2 linked regions of the Homo sapiens genome follow. The protein of the gene in region 1 purifies or fractionates together with the protein of each later gene. This does not show direct contact. Each region holds a gene or a part of one and is shown in the gene's direction. Other genes may lie near its edges.

Region 1 (3,819 bases):
GATCCTTTTCTCCTTTTTTTTTTTCCTGTGAGCATTGTGTTTACTCTGTGTGCTGGCAGCAGAAACCAGAAAGGAAATGCAGAAAAAGCATCTAACGGTTTTCATAACGTAAACCAAATGTTGGGAGTGTGGGTGAGCTCGTGGGAGGAAAGGCGCTATATAAATCTGACAAATAAATAAATAACTAGTTCTTTAAATAAACTGGCACCGAAAAAGCCTTAAACTGTGACCTATTGAATTTAGGCTTATTCGGAGTCAGAAGTCCCTTTGCTCACCAAATGTGAGTTCCTTACACGTGCACTCTGTTGGGCTAATGGTGGGAGTGGATGGAAGGGAGGAGGTTAAGGGGAGGAAGAGGAGGTTTGGTAGGAACCAGGCTGTGCCTTCACTGAAAGTGATTGCCTGCCTTGGTAAATTAGAGGCATCTTTGTTGTAGCTGTATTATGTATACAACACATTCTTAGATACTTCAAAAGGACTGGAGAAGGGAGGGTGGTTCAAGTGAAGGTCAGTGAGTAAAGTTCACAGGATGTATTTTGAGGACAAGGACTGAATGACTTCACTAATCTCTGCACATAAAAGACATTATCAGCAGCAAGCTCTGAGAATCTTTCTTCCAAATATGTTGGCTTTGTGACCTACCCCTGAGATCCCCCTTGGCCACTCCTGCTGTCTCAAGACAAACCAGTACGGAACAATCCCAATTATAGAATCTGTTCTGCAGATCACAGGCCTCTAAGCTTTGCGCATCCTTAAAGTTATGCCGCGGGGAGGGGATGAGGTTGCTGGCTAGTGCCCATGTGGAAGTACCTTTTCCTGAGGAGGCCATACCAGGCCAACTCTAGAGTTTCATTCTGGAAGGTGAGAAAAGATGAGCACTAAGCGGAAGTGAGGCCACCAGCCTGCCAGCTGCAGAGGCTCTGGTTACAGAACTGAGCGGCACATGCCATCTCGGAGCTATCAAAGGAACTGATTTCTGGAGGTCACCTTCGAAGGTGCTGGGATGGTGGCAGAGGGGAAAGGGAGAGAAAATGGAAGGCGTTACTACCATTCCTTTCAAGTAGCACAAGATGTGGGCACTTTACAAAAATAAGGCCTTAAGAATATCTTCGGCCGGGCGCCGTGGCTCACACCTGTAATCCTAGCACTTTGGGAGGCCGAGGCGAGCAGATCACTTGAGGTCAGGAGTTCGAAACCAGCCTGGCCAATGTGGTGAAACCCTATCTCTACTAAAAATACAAAAAAAAAATTAGCCAGGCATGATGGCAGGCACCTGTAATCCTAGCTACTTGAGAGGCTGAAACAGGAGAATTGCTTGAACCCAAGAGATGGAGGTTGCAGTGAGCCGAGATTGTGCCACTGCACTCCAATCTGGACAAGAGCGAGACGCCGTCTCAACAAAAAATAAAAAGAATACCTTCATCAGCTGGGTACCGTGGCTTTTGCCTGTAATCCCAGCAAACTTTTGAGAGGCTGAAACAGGCAGATCACTGAGTCCTGGAGTTCAAGACCAGCCTGGCCAACATGGTGAAACCCCGTTTCTACTAAAAATCGCAGCTACTTGGGAGGCTGCGGCAGGAGAACCACTTGATCCCGGGAGGCGGAGGTTGCGGTGAGCTGAGATCGAGTCACTCGAGTCACTGCACTCCAGCCTGGGTGACAGAGCAAGACTTTTTTTTAAGTCTTTTTTTAGACTTTTTTTAAAAAAAAAAAAAAAAAAACAACTTCGTCTCTCTTTTCTGAAAGAATTCCCTTTAGGTTTGCGGCATGCTGCCGGTGCCCATGTTCTAAACGTCAAGTGTAAACCTGAGACGGGAATTTACACTTCTTCAAAGACCATTGAAAGGTTTCTTGAAGAAGTTGTGCCGTAAGGCATTCAGCGCCCCATGAAAGGCTATCAGCCCACTGAACCTTCAGTAGTTGGTAAAACTTGTTTAAGACATTGGCCAGGTGGATTCTGAGGCTTTTGATGTCTGGGATAAAAGGATAAGTACATGTAAATTGCCCAGTAGTTTTCATATTATAAAATGATCTTACCGTGCTGCTTTAGGTAGAGTAGTAAAGGCAGTATATTGTGCTGTGCTATACCCTGATGTAAACAGTGTTCTATCTGTACACAGATCTCTTCAGTTTAAGATTGTAAATCTTGATGTTCTAGAAATCTGCTGACCACCTGTTCCCACACATTGATTCAAATCAAATTCAAACTATTTTATTAAAGCTATTCAAGAATTCTTTGAATTAATAGAATTCAAGCTAAAAGTAGAGAATAAGACCTTAATATTACAGGATTGTATTATTTTTCCTTGAAGCTTGGCTCCTACTTTCTAACTGAGGGTATATATTCACAAATGCTTTTCTTTATACACATAGATTAGTGCTTCCTGTCTGTTTCATGGACTGAGAGTTCACACATCTCCAGCCTTCCACAACCACCTTCCTAAACTCTATAGTCTGTCAATTATGGCTGTGGCAGAAACCATACTTTACAGACATGATTGTATTTCACCATTTCAGGAGCATTTGGAGGATAATACATCCCCATGTCACAGATAAGCAAACAAAGCCAAGAAACTTTGCCTTTGGTCACTTCCCTACTAAGGCACGGCAGGCTTTCCCTTCTACACTGCACACCCAACAGGGAAAGGGCAGCTGGCACACATCTGGATTTATCTGACAGCTGAAGAGTGTTAAGGAAACTCGACTAGTAGCAACAGGTTTTTATTCTATCTTGTTAAAAAACAGTGCATATTTATTATCAAACTATAGATGAGCAAAAAAAGAAAATCACCTAAAATTATAACCACCCCACAGATAGGCAGTGTTAATATCTAAATGTCAGTCTTTCTGTGGTTTTATATGACACCATACTACTACTTTTATTTTTGCTAAGCTTTGATACTCTACGTACTGTTTAGCAACCTTCCTTAATATGTCAAAAATACCTTTCCAAGACCTTATATATTTACATATTATGTAATTTCTAATGGTTGCTTTCAACCAAATGACTGTATCATAATATATATAGCCAGTTTCCTTGTTAGACAGCTGCATTGGTGACCATCTTTGTAGTTATACCTGATCATCTGTGACTGAATTGCTGTTCAGGTACCTGGCACAGAATTAGTAACTGCCTGCTCATCTTCCAAGCTAAAAGGAAAAACACTTCTCTTCTGACTTTGTTACTTTTTTAATTACTAATGAGTTAAACTTTTTGTTTATGACCATTCCTATTCTGTAAGGATATTCCTGTTTATGTCCTTTGCCCATTTTTTTCCTCTTGAGATATTCATCTTTTGTTAATTTCTAAAAGCTCTTTTTGCCAACAGTGAGATTCCTGTATCTGTGGAGATTTTTCCTCAGTTTTACTTTTGGTTTTGTTTCTGGTGTTTTCTGACTACTGCAGATTCTTTCCCCCTGGTTTGATGTGTTTCTTTTGGTTTTGTTTCCGATGTCTTTTTAAGTTATAGAAATTTATACAGTGAGGTATATCCAGGTTTATCTTGATGATTTCTGCTGTTGGTATGATACTTAGGTTTTCCCTCACTCCCAAGTTTTGTAAGTTTTCATATATATTTACTTTCATATGATGGTTTCACTTTTTTTTTTTTTTGAGACAGTCTTGCTCTGTTGCCCAGGCTAGAGTACAGTGGCGCAATCTCGGCTCACTGCAACCTTCACCTCCTGGGTTCAAGTGATTCTGATGCCGCAGCCTCCTGAGTAGCTGGGATTACAGGTGCACAAAACCACGCCTGGCTAATTTTTTTAGGTTTTTTTGTTGTTGTTTATTTTGAGACGGAGTCTCGCTCTGTCACAAGG
Region 2 (3,819 bases), on another chromosome or scaffold:
GTATGCACCTAGGAGCGGGATTGTTGGGTCATGTGGGAACCCTATGTTTAAGCATCTGTGGATCTGCCAGACTGTTTTCCACGGCAGCTGTAACATTTCACATTCCTGCCAGTGTGGTAGAGAGTTGAGGCAGATGGGGTCACTGGGTGGAAGCCACGATTGGAGGGCTTCATTCCCGTCCCTTCCCTGCAGGCTGAACTGGAGAATGTGTCTGGGGCGCTGAACGAGGCTGAGTCCAAAACCATCCGTCTTAGCAAGGAGCTGAGCAGCACAGAAGCCCAGCTGCACGATGCCCAGGTGACCCTGCCTGCCCTTCGGCTCCACCGTCACCCTCCCCTCCTTGTCCTCCCAGCCACACCTGACATTGCCGTCTCCTCCATCTACAGGAGCTGCTGCAGGAGGAGACCAGGGCGAAATTGGCCTTGGGGTCCCGGGTGCGAGCCATGGAGGCTGAGGCAGCCGGGCTGCGTGAGCAGCTGGAGGAGGAGGCAGCTGCCAGGGAACGGGCGGGCCGTGAACTGCAGACTGCCCAGGCCCAGGTGAGCAGCCCTACGTAAGACCTTCAGGGAGGCACAGCCCCCCTCACTGCTCCTCCTGGGTTCCCCAGCTCAGGGATGGCCATGCTGCCCACCTTCTCATAGGCCAGACCCATGGGTGCCTTTCTCATCTCTGACTCCCCCTTACCCCCCACAGCCCATGCCCAGCCCTGGCTGTCCTGACCCCTGACTCTCAGCCTCATCCCTTGTCCCAGCTCCAGCTCAGCCCCAGCTCCAGTGCCGTCCTCTCCCATCTAGATCCTCCTCTTGGCCTCTGGGCCTCCAGCCTCTCCCCTAACAGCTCATCCCCTGCACAGCCCCAGAAGCTTCTTTCTTTACCTGGAGCTGACCCTGTCCCTCCTCTGCTCACAGCTCTCCCACGCCTCCCCAGTACTCCTAGACAAAGTCCATGCCTCTCAGTCAGGCATTGAGGCCCTGCAATCTCTGGTCCTTCCTCTGCCTTTAGCTGTATTCATCTCTATCTCTACTTTCCTATTTTATTTGAAAAAAACCTTTTATTTTTCCAGACTTAGCATTAGGCTCCCCTGTGGGAAGTTTCCTGACCCGTCTTCTCTTTCTCCTCTGTCCCAACTCCAGTCACCTTGGGCTGGGACTGTCTCTGCCCATGAGTCTCCCCACCAGACTGAGAGCCCCTTCAAACTAGAATCCCATCAGAGTTAGATCCAGGTCTGTAGCACAGCCTGATATAGGGCCTGATGTATGGTAGGCGTTGAGAAATGCCTATTGAATGAATGAGTGATGGTACGTGCCTGCAGATATCCTTCAACTGGCAGACTTCTATGCATACTTCAAGACCCATCTCAAATGCTCCTCCTTCAGGAAGTTTCTCCTGAATGTTCTAAACAGATTCTGGGCACTTCCTGTGGACCTCCATAGCTCCCATACTGCTACCTTAACCCCTATCACCCTGGCTGTGACTCTGTGTCTCCCCCAGCAGCCGAGGGGCTCCCCAGGAAAGACTCCAGGTCTGATTCACCTCTGCATCTTGGAGGGAGTAATTTTAATTCCCTGGAAGAACTAGGGCTCATAGTATTCACAACTTCACACCACTCAGAGGCAGAAGAGCCCAGCAGAATGACCCCTTTCCCTCTTCAGGCCTCAGTCTCTTCATCCTGGAAATGGAGCACCACCAGCTTACACCTTGGTCACTCATGGCCGTGACCACCAACCACCCTCTCTCTCCTCCCCTCAGCTTTCCGAGTGGCGGCGGCGCCAGGAGGAGGAGGCAGGGGCACTGGAGGCAGGGGAGGAGGCACGGCGCCGGGCAGCCCGGGAGGCCGAGGCCCTGACCCAGCGCCTGGCAGAAAAGACAGAGACCGTGGATCGGCTGGAGCGGGGCCGCCGCCGGCTGCAGCAGGAGCTGGACGACGCCACCATGGACCTGGAGCAGCAGCGGCAGCTTGTGAGCACCCTGGAGAAGAAGCAGCGCAAGTTTGACCAGGTGGGGCACCTCAGTTCACCCAGCCGGGGAATCAGCAAGTCCATCTACGCTTCCCATGGTCGTTGTGAGGAACCAGTAATCCGTGCTGTCACGGCTCAACTAGGCAGTTGTAGTGGACCAGGAAGCAAGACCCTTCTTTGCTCTGGGCCTCTGTAAAATAGGACATCCCTCTGTCCTGATTCATGCCTCTTGCCACAGCATAATTCCTCGTAGCACCCACTTTTACTTTCAGAGCTGCCCTGGTTTTTGGATGACAAAATATACGAATACCTTCAGTACCCCAGAGATTGCTTATGAGAATTAAATCAAATAACTCATCTCACTTCTGCTGATTCACGGGGTACCTCAGGCAAGTTGCTTTTTCCATCTCAGCTTCAGTTCGCCCATCTGGAAAATGGCAATAATACCAAGCATCTGGCAGCCTGAGGATGAAATAAAAATCACAGAACCTTAGAGAGTTCAGATCAGGCAATCCTGAGGTTCAGATCCCAATTCGGCCTCTTGATGGCTGTGTGGCTTGGGCAAATTGCTCAACCTCTCTGTGCTTTATTTTATTCATTTAGAAAATGCAGTGTGAAGCTGGGCACTGTGGCTCATGCCTGTAATCCCAGCACTTTGGGAGGCCAAGGCGGGCGGATTGCCTGAGCTCAGGAGTTCACAACCAGCATGGGCAACACGGTGAAACCCCGTCTCTACTAAAATACAAAAAAATTAGCTGGGCATGGCGGTGTGCGCCTGTAATCCTAGCTACTCGGGAGGCTGAGGCAGGAGAATCACTTGAACTGGAAAGGCGGAGGTTGCAGTGAGCCAAGATCGTGCCACTGCACTCCGGCCTGGGTGATAGAGCAAGACTCCATCTCAAAAAAAAAATAAAAAATTAAAAAAAATTTTTTTAAATTGTCATTTCCCTGTAGGTGGTGCAGTATGTTTTTCTAGCTGACTTACGATTTCTCTCTTTATGTTTGGTTCTTAGTGGTTTGACTGTGATATGCCCAGCTGTGGGTTTTTTGTATTTATCCTGCTTTAGATTCACTGTGCTTCCTGTAGCTGTGGGTTGATGTTTTTGATCAAATGTGGAACATTTCAGCCATTATTTCTTCAAATATTTTTATCTCCCACTCTCTCTCCTTCCCCTTCTTCTTGGACTCCAAATACATATGATTTGATTGTAATACTCTTCCACAGGTCATTGAAGCTTTATTATTTTTGGCATCTTCTGGAATTTTATATAAATTATTTTCACATAAATCTCTTTTGGGATGGGCTTATTTTACTCAAAATAATTTTTTTTTTTTGAGACAGAGTCTCGCTGTGTCACCAAGGCTAGAGTGCAGTGGCACGATCTCAGCTCACTGCAACCTCCACCTCTCAGGTTCAAGCGATTCTCGTGCCTCAGCCTCCCAAGTAGCTGGGATTACAGGTGTGCACCACCATGCCTGGCTAATTTTTGTGTTTTTAATAGAGACGAGGTTTCACCATTTTGGCAAGGCTGGTCTCGAACTCCTGGCTTCAAGTGATCCACCCACCTCGGCCTCCCGAAGTGCTGGGATTATAGGAGTAAGCTACCGCACCCAGCCTCAAAATAATTAGTCTGAGATCCATCCATATTTTTGCATATCAATAATGTATTCCATGTATCAATAATGTATTTTTGCTGCTGAATATTATTCCTGTGGTATAGATCAGCCACATTTTGATATTCATTAACCTTTTGATGAACATTTGGGTTTTTTTCCAGTTTTTTTCTAGTTATGGATAAAACCTTAGTCTTTCTCAAAGGTGGTTTTAATTAACATTTCCCTAATGACCAGTGACGTTGAG

What was found.
Region 2: the proteins of ETV5 (region 1) and MYH14 purify together in Homo sapiens (affinity purification with mass spectrometry, with the first as the bait; one large-scale study listed by BioGRID). This does not show direct contact.

What each region holds. Positions count from the first base shown.
Region 1 is NC_000003.12:186,067,404-186,071,222, reverse strand, and holds part of ETV5 (ETS translocation variant 5), read left to right. Parts: intron 1-3,819. UniProt on the Homo sapiens protein: Binds to DNA sequences containing the consensus nucleotide core sequence 5'-GGAA.-3'.
Region 2 is NC_000019.10:50,279,845-50,283,663, forward strand, and holds part of MYH14 (myosin-14), read left to right. Parts: intron 1-192; coding exon 193-297; intron 298-386; coding exon 387-539; intron 540-1,749; coding exon 1,750-1,998; intron 1,999-3,819. UniProt on the Homo sapiens protein: Cellular myosin that appears to play a role in cytokinesis, cell shape, and specialized functions such as secretion and capping.